Homo sapiens: one gene and its partner. Each later gene encodes a partner of the first gene's protein in a complex. Each region holds a gene or a part of one and is shown in the gene's direction. Other genes may lie near its edges.

What was found.
Region 2: PIGY (region 1) and DPM2 share a complex: the UniProt entries of both Homo sapiens proteins name them as parts of the glycosylphosphatidylinositol-N-acetylglucosaminyltransferase (GPI-GnT) complex.

What each region holds. Positions count from the first base shown.
Region 1 is NC_000004.12:88,520,686-88,525,413, reverse strand, and holds PIGY (phosphatidylinositol N-acetylglucosaminyltransferase subunit Y), read left to right. Parts: upstream 1-1,637; 5' UTR 1,638-1,713; coding exon of another isoform or gene 1,714-1,916; intron 1,917-3,384; coding exon of another isoform or gene 3,385-3,526; 5' UTR 3,527-3,624; coding exon 3,625-3,840; 3' UTR 3,841-4,416; downstream 4,417-4,728. Other genes in the region: PYURF (protein preY, mitochondrial precursor), read left to right, coding at 1,714-1,916, 3,385-3,526. UniProt on the Homo sapiens protein: Part of the glycosylphosphatidylinositol-N-acetylglucosaminyltransferase (GPI-GnT) complex that catalyzes the transfer of N-acetylglucosamine from UDP-N-acetylglucosamine to phosphatidylinositol and participates in the first step of GPI biosynthesis.
Region 2 is NC_000009.12:127,935,055-127,939,108, reverse strand, and holds DPM2 (dolichol phosphate-mannose biosynthesis regulatory protein), read left to right. Parts: upstream 1-1,254; 5' UTR 1,255-1,288; coding exon 1,289-1,291; intron 1,292-1,585; coding exon 1,586-1,675; intron 1,676-1,798; coding exon of another isoform or gene 1,799-1,894; exon of another isoform or gene 1,895-2,292; intron 2,293-2,330; exon of another isoform or gene 2,331-2,453; coding exon 2,454-2,556; intron 2,557-3,328; coding exon 3,329-3,387; 3' UTR 3,388-4,010; downstream 4,011-4,054. UniProt on the Homo sapiens protein: Regulates the biosynthesis of dolichol phosphate-mannose. Regulatory subunit of the dolichol-phosphate mannose (DPM) synthase complex; essential for the ER localization and stable expression of DPM1.

The sequences.
Region 1 (4,728 bases):
GCAGAAACTTATCTTTCCTACAGCTCACCCCTTCCCTTGAGCCCAAAGTATCAACTGACTTCAACTGAAAAATTAATTCCTGCTACTGCCCTAGTCGGAAATAGTGTGAAGGTGACATAGGAACTTTACAGTAGTTTCCCTTGAGGGTATGTCCCGATAACTGCCCTATTCTCTAGTCCGTTAGTAACTCTAATAACGGAAAGTTATGACTGTGAAAGATTGCTTTGTGAGGGAAGGAAGGTGAGGCAACCAGAGACTTTCATTATCTCTTAAATATCTATCCAGTAGAAGTGTTTCCTTTTTGGTATCCTATAAACTACATTAACCTTAGAAAATCTTCTGAGCATTAGTGAACAAAGAACATCAAAAAATAAACTGTTTTTTTTAAAAAAAACAGGATGGCCCAAAAAACAAACAAAAAATTAGGATGAACATATAAACATTTGTCAGTTTATTTTTACATTGGAGTGGAAGAGAAATTTGAAAATATAAACATATTTTTGGATTCTGTACTTCCAGCTCCAGGAACTCAAAGTGTGAAATGATAATGCCCAGTGATGCAAAAAAAAAGTTCAGGTTGATATTCAGCAGAACGGAGGGAAAAAATGGATGACTAATGAGAATCTTTGAGTCTTCGGACATGGAAAAACTAGATGAACTAAAAATAAAAATAGACAACATTAATGGAGCATTAATTTGTGCCAGGCACTTTTCTAAATGTTCTTCGAATGCACAATCACATTTATGCCCTACCTACAAGGTAGGTACAATTATTAGTCTTATACAGATAAGGAAAATGAGCAGTTAAGTCATTTGCCAAAGTCATCCAGCTACTAATTGTGGACAGGGAACCAAGCTGTCAGGCCCCAGAGCCCAAGTTCCCATCTACTACACTGTAAGAAAGAGATCTAACATGGTCACTTTCTTGGAGAGTGGGAAGCAAACCTGGGATACAAATTCACTGAATGGATCACCCACTCATTGAATGGATCTTTAACAGGCAGATCACATCTGCCTGTTACACAGCTATTTAGGCCCCTTGCGGCCTCCAAGCTCATTTATAGAAGTAAATTAGCTGTGCTTTATTACGCAAATACTTCACAATGACTGGGTCTCAGGCAGGAAGAATTTATATATTTTGGAGGGTCAGAGGCCTAGGCCCTTCCTTCCAGGTTCTCACTTTTTTTAATGAGAGAGAAAAAAGCCAAACAAGGTTACAGAAACTAATGGTATAGTAAAGATGTACATGAAACAAATGAGCGCTTTCAATACATCCATGACAATACATTCGGTACAATACATAACAGTGTGTTTGAAACTTCACTTGGAGGTAACCACGTAGGTCCAAGCCTAACTCCCTACAACTCTGAGGCCTGGCCACTGGCTTCCTAGCATCCTTGGACAGGCCCCGGTGAAAACCCAGACACCTTGACTTAAACACTGGTTTAGTTTGTAGTCTGGTAAGGCGGCGGGGCACTCACCAGAGGCCTCTGCCCTGGGGCTGTCCTCCGGACTATAGATGACGCCCGTGGGAAAAGCAGTCGGAGCAGAAGCACCCTCGGAACCAAAGCGCCCGCCCCGCCTACTCCTCGGCAGCGTTTCCTGGAGGACCAGGGGGCGGGGCCTGCCCGGCTGGCCTGGACGAACGGGAAGCCGGGAGCTCGGCCACGGGTGGCGAGGCTGCGGTGAGGCCTGGTCTCCGGCTGCCAGACCATGCTGAGTGGAGCACGCTGCAGGCTCGCCTCAGCGCTGCGGGGAACGCGCGCGCCGCCGTCCGCGGTCGCCCGTAGGTGCCTGCACGCGTCGGGGTCGCGGCCTTTGGCCGACCGGGGCAAGAAGACTGAGGAGCCGCCCCGCGACTTCGATCCGGCGCTGCTGGAGTTCCTGGTGTGCCCGCTCTCCAAGAAGCCGCTCAGGTAACTCGCTGGCCTTGGCCCTTCCTTTGCAGCCTCCCGGTGGGCGGAAAGGGAGCGGTGGACCGCGGCCTCTTGCAGCCACTGGGGCCTTGTAGGTCGGTCAGGTACTCTCCGCTGCCACATTCTGGACTCTGTCCTCGCCGGGCGCACAGCGGGCAGGACGGGGGAGACCGGAGGCCAGGGGAGCTGCGTCCCACATCTCCCAGAACGCAACGCCAGCCTGCGGGAATGGCTCGAAGCGTTTTAGGGTTCGCGACCGGCTGCGCATTGCAATCACCCGGGGACCGTTTTAAAAATGCCGATTCCCCGACAGCCCCCAAGACGGGCAGACTTGGAATGCTCGCGGGATGGGACCTGAACATTTGTATTTTCTTTTCCTTTTTTTTTTTCCTTTTAAGAGACAGGGTGCCCCCTACGTTGCCCAGACTGGCCTAGAACTCCCGCCTCAGCCTCCTCAGGAGTCGAGAGACAGGCGCCGCCCCCACGCCCAGCTTATCTGTGTTCTTAAACGGTCCCTAAATGATTTCTAATGTACCACCAGGTTTATGAACCACTGCGATTCAGGACAAGTCCGAAGCCTTCCGGTTTTTAAGCCAAGATAATGAAAAGTATTGTTGTACCCTCCAGATTCTTGTGAAAGTGTCTTGTACAACTGGTGCCTGACAATCTTAAGCAATTCAGCTGTGTTTGCTGCCCAGTGGCTCTTAGTTGTGGCCTAGCAGGTTTCGTAGAAGCCTCTTTAACTAGTTTTTGGGAAGACAGCTCTACAGTTTCCAAGCTACCAAAATTGAATATTGACAACACTAACGCTAGTATTACAAATCGCATAAACACCAAAATGTTATCAGTGGTTATCTTTGAATGGTAGATTGCTAGCAATTTTTCGTATTTCTTTTTCCCGTAATAAACATATTATTCAATTTTCTCGAACCTTGAAATTATCATTTGATTTACGTTTATAACTAGCTCACTGCAGACTTAGTGCTTTCGAAAGTTTCTTCATTTCTGCCCTCTCACCTTTTCCAGTGATTTCCTTCTAATGGATTAGTTAAGTTTCTCTACTTAGCATTTATTCTAAAATGAAGAAGTTGATTTTTCTCTAGTGTTTATTCCAGTAGTAAATTAACAGGGATGGTTTGGGGGTTGACCAAAGTAATGAAGGAATATTTGGATAAGAGAGGGGGATCTTTTCTGACTAGTATGAAAAAAAATTAAGGAATAACTTGTGAATAAGGTGAAAAAGAGAATATGAGAGAAACTACTAAAATGGGAATAATTATAGATTGTAAGAGAATTTTTCTAAGATAAAAGGTTGAATTGGCTATTGTTGCTTTTAGAATTAAAGAAGACTATTCTGGGATTAACTCCGTACCAAAAATTGGATAAATGGTGGTATTTGTTGAAAATCAGGCTCTTCAAGCATTTTATTTTCCCACAACTCATTTTGTTCTTTTTTTTTCCACCTCAGATATGAAGCATCAACAAACGAATTGATTAATGAAGAGTTGGGAATAGCTTATCCAATCATTGATGGGATCCCTAATATGATACCACAGGCAGCTAGGATGACACGTCAAAGTAAGAAGCAAGAAGAAGTGGAGCAGCGCTAGTTCATAATTTAAAAAAATTAAAAAAACGCAACAGCCAACTTTTCTTAATACCATATACCTTTTAAAACACAGTGGCAGGTAATAAGTGGAAGAGAAGAATGTTTCTGTCTCTTCCTACGTTGACTGTTCTTATTCCACTGGTTTCTTTAGCAGGACTGTTCTACTCAGCCTCTGTGGAAGAAAACTTCCCACAGGGCTGCACTAGCACAGCCAGCCTTTGCTTTTACAGCCTGCTCTTGCCTATTACCATACCAGTGTATGTATTCTTCCACCTTTGGACTTGGATGGGTATTAAACTCTTCAGGCATAATTGATGCAACTAGAGTCAATATGCTGTATATATTAATGATAGCTCTTGGGCATCGATCTCTGAAAGCTCAAATGGATGGAATTTAGTTTGCGGGAAAGAGGCTTTGCTTTGCGCATATCAGGCTTAGGACTGTGGGAGGCTTAAGTTGCAGATGCTTCTTTTATTGTACTCTTGTTCTGCCCTTGTTTTTTGAAGGCTCTGACTTATAACTGCTGTATCAGAAGAAACATTTTGACAGTGTCTTGGTTGGAGATGAACATCCCTAATTGACATGTGATGACTATTTCTTATTCCATTCATCTAAGAGTCATTGAAATTTTGTTTTGCTTGTTTGTTTAGCTTCAAGGTCTTTGGTAAAGTCACATGTTAAGGATGACTGAAATAATTCCAAAGGAGTGATGTTGGAATAGTCCCTCTAAGGGAGAGAAATGCATTTGAACGAATGTGATATAAAACCACATAATCAAATAGAAACTTCATGTACTTACAAAAACTGAGTTTGTAAAATTACCTTCATTTCTTTGACATTAAATGCTTATATTAGCAATAAACATGTTGACACTTTCCTATAAAAAATAAACCAGTTTGCAGTAGTCGTTTGTTTGTTTGGTCACAGAAGTGTTAATGATACTAAGGGAAGTTGTAAAACTGCACTAAATGTAGTTGTGTTTAGAGAGGTACTTAATACCCAAAACAGAATCATTTCCTGGGAAAGTGAGGGGTGGGAAGACTTGCAAGTAGTGGATTGTACCCTGTTGAGCTTAGAGCCATATTTGAGCCACATTTCAGTTTATTTTCCCAGGATGCCGAATAACACCACTAAGGGCATGAGCATTGACACGTTAATGGCCCCTGATTTTCTAGAACTTTCAACAAGACTAATCAAGCATAG
Region 2 (4,054 bases), on another chromosome or scaffold:
AAAATTAGCTGGGCGTGTTGACACGTGCCTGTAATCCCAGCTACTCGGTAGGCTGAGGCAGAAGAATCGCTTGAACCCAGGAGGCAGAGGTTGCAGTGAGCTGAGATCATGCCACTGCACTCCAGCCTGGGTGACAGAGTGAGACTCCCGTCTTGGGAAAAAAAAAAAAAAACAAAAAAACCTCTTTCTTTGGGCCAAGCCTCCACTGAGTGCCAGGGATACAGCAGCAACCTCAGACCCTACCCTCGGGGCTGACAGGGCTGGATCAACAATTGCATCAGTGAATTAAAAGGCACAGGAGGCTGGGCACCGTGGCTCACGCCTGTAAACTTTTGGAGGCCGAGTTGGGAGGATCGCTTGAGCCCAGGAGTTCGACACCAGCCTGGATAACATAGAACTCCGTCTCAAAAACAAACAAACAAACAAAAAAAACGTTCCCGACTGGCTTCCCTGAGGAACGTGGCGTCCCAGTGAGACCGGATGGGTGAGGAGCAGCCGGCCTGTGAGTGGTGGGGGACCGCGTTCCTATCTCGGAGCTGAAGAAGCGTGGAAGATGATCTGGCCCAACATCTCTTTGTTCTCAGAGGAAGGGCCTTCCAAGACCGGGGAGGGGCCTGTGCGTGGGTCCCGGTCCGAAACGTGTCTGGGCTGCTGCGAGAGACAGTCGGTGAAGGAAGGGAGGGGACATCCGAAGGGTGGCCCGGGAGGCCGGGCGATGGTGAGGAGGGCGCCTCCTCTCCACCAAATCCTCCCCATCCATGCGGGCTAGGGACAGACCCTCCCCCGCCCACCCTAGGCTGGAAAGTGAACGTTCTCTGCACCTCTCCCACCTACAGACTAAGTAGGGCACCCGGTTTCCGTGTCGGCTTCACCACTGACTCGGAATGGGATCTACCTTTCTCTGAGCCTCACTTTTCCCATCTGAAAAATGGAACTTCCGATCCCGCACTCCCATCCCACTCTGGCCCCGGGACTCTGGGATACTTAGAGATTGGCTTTTGGTGGGGCGGCGACAGGACTGTGGCCATGAAGGCCAGGGAGTCTGGGTCCCCAACTCGGTCCCATTCCCTAGAGAGATTCGGGCAGCAACCGGCCCCACAATGCTCTTGAGAACTACACTTCGCCGATATGCAAAGAAGAGGAGGCGGTTCCTGCTCGTCTCCGACGAGGTGGGCCCGAGCAGGCCTGGGGACTACGACTCCCGGCGTGCTCCGCAGTCCAAAGCCGGAAGAGCGTGGACCCGGAACCGGATGTGGCTTGCGGCTCGGGTGGCTGAGCGCGCGGGGAAATGGTGAGATTGGCACCGTGTGCCGGAGATAGGGGCGTCTGGGGGTGGGGTCCCGGGTCTGCTCAGGAGCTGGGGCATGGGCACTTGGAACGGGGATTGCTCTCCCGCCCCCACTATTGTACGGACGACAACGCGGAGGCCTAGCATTCTCTCCCAGCCTAGAAACTGATCCCTAGTCAGCCCTCTACCATCTGTTGAATGGGAAGCTTAGACCGTGATCGGGCCGCGACGCCCCGCTTCCATTAGTGCGCCGAAATAGAGGGTCACTTCGTCAGCTGAGACCTCCCTTTTCTCCAGGCCACGGGGACAGACCAGGTGGTGGGACTCGGCCTCGTCGCCGTTAGCCTGATCATCTTCACCTACTACACCGCCTGGGTGATTCTCTTGGTATGTCATTCTCCCCGTCCGCTGCTCACCTTCCCCGAGCCCTGGCACCGCCAGAGCAACTACTATATAGGCTCTAGGCACGGCGCTGGCTTCATTGCCTGCCTCATCTCTTGAACTCTCCAGAACAACTCTATGAGGAAGATGCCAGTGGTACCGCATTTTATAGATGAGATAGCTGAGGCTAGGGGAGAAGGATCTGGCCCAAGATTGCATCCTTAGCCGCTACACTTATAACTCTGTTTCCGGCTTGCTTTGACTTTTGGGGGAGTTCTGTTCCTTCTGGGTTAGCCTGCTGACTCTTAGGCATGGCAAACGCCAGTGATATTTGTGAAGGCCTTTAGGATATTTTTTTCTTGTGGGAAAACTTGTTGGTTATTGCTTAAGAAGTGCAGTGTGTCTGGAAGTGCAGAACTTGGTATCCTTTAGAGAAAAAATATTAGTGAAGAAGCCCTGGAGGCCCAGGTTGGGAGTCAGTCGAGGATTCCTCAAGTACCATTTGCTAGGCTGTGAGGTGCCTTAGGGCAGGTCTCTTGTGCCCTGTTCTCTTGTCCCCACCACCAACCTATAGCAGGCACCAAAGCAAGTGCCCGGTAAATACCAATAAGAAATTAAGGAAAGAAACAAACCACGACACCCAAATGCCGTAATCTTAAAGAAAAGCAAATGCAGTCCCAGTCCTCTGAATGGGTCAGCCCCTTAGATGGAGGAGGTGGGACGTTTGGGCTTGGGGGCTCGGCAAGGCAAGCAAGACACACCAGAGCTCTTCCCTCGATGCCAGCCATTCATCGACAGTCAGCATGTCATCCACAAGTATTTCCTGCCCCGAGCCTATGCTGTCGCCATCCCACTGGCTGCAGGCCTCCTGCTGCTCCTGTTTGTGGGTAAGTCATCACCTCCTCCCCTTGACCCTGGGCAGGGTTTCGGGAAGACCCCACCTCTGAACATGCTTCCACACTTTGGCGGTGCTGGAAGCTGCTTGCCCCGAACTCACCCGTGGGGTTTTCCTGTTCATCCTTCGAGGCTGCCAGTCAGTAACCTCTGGGTTTCCTGGTGCCCCAGGCTTTTTGGACTCCAATGACCTGTCTACCTCTTTCCTGCCCCAACCCCATCATCACTCTGCTCACACCTCAGTCACCCTCTTGTCACCCTGGCTTCTAATTCCTGCACCTCTCTCTCTCATGGCTTCCTAGGGATGGGGACTGTGTCTCCATCATTACTGCACATCTAGAACAGGCTGTGGCACTGAGGCTGTGCTCAGAAAGTCATTTGGATGAGTCAGTCAACAGCCGGGTGCCTGGATGATGGGTGGATGGATGGGTGGGTGGGTGAGGTGTAGGAGGAGGTGGGTAGGTATGTAGGTGGACAGACAAGTGGTTGACCGGGTGATCGATAGATGGGTGGATCTTGTTCCCCTTGGAATCTGAAACACTAAATGCAGCATCTTGCTTGAGGCAGGCACTCAGTTGGTGTTTGTTGAGTGAATGTGAGTAGACATATGCCTTGACGAATGACTAGGGAGATAAGCAGGTTCCCTGGAGGATGGTTGGGTAGGTTCACAGCCCTGTGTGTGGGTGGCTCTGCTGTGTCATGCCCTGGCCTCCCAGCAGCCCTGAGCTTAGATCTTATGTGGCCTTTCTGGTCTGTGTATCCCAGGACTGTTCATCTCCTATGTGATGCTGAAGACCAAGAGAGTGACCAAGAAGGCTCAGTGAAGGTCCCGCAGGGATGAGGCTGCCAGCCCCTTCTCTGCTTCCCCTCCAGCACAGGGACCAAGTGGGGGAGCCTGCAGAACCTGTCCAGGCACAGTGGCTCCTCAAGCCTGCCTGTCCTGCAGAGTCCCCATGGCATGGAGCTTACACCTGACTGACTGGAGCCCCCTCCCCGACTCCCACTTCCAGAAGCTAGGAGGGAGGGATACCTGGAAGACTCCGGTCACCTCCTTCTTGCTCAGGGCCTAAAAGATGCTGGTCCTCCCAACCTCACTCTCAGACTCCCTGCCACCTTTTCCCCTGGGTTCTGCCGTCTTGCCTCACTTCCCCTCCTGTCACATGCTGACGTTGGACTTAGCAGGTTCTAAGGCCACATGTGTGACCTCTCTGACTTCTCTTCCTCCACCAAGGCAGCTTTCCTTACCCTGACACAGCCCCAGACCCCACAAAGCCTTCTGGACCTGGAAAGCCTGGGGAAGGACTGACAGACCCCAGGACCAGCCCTGGGGCTCAGGGCAGCCACCCCGGGCCGCTGACCGACTGACCTCTCCTCACGGAGGCCCAGCCCCAAAGCCCCAGGGCTGGCCCGTTTGGGACAGCTGACCAATAAACACTGATGGTGTGTTTGTCTCTGTGCCGTGTTTACCCAGGGTCGGGGCTGGAGCGGGCT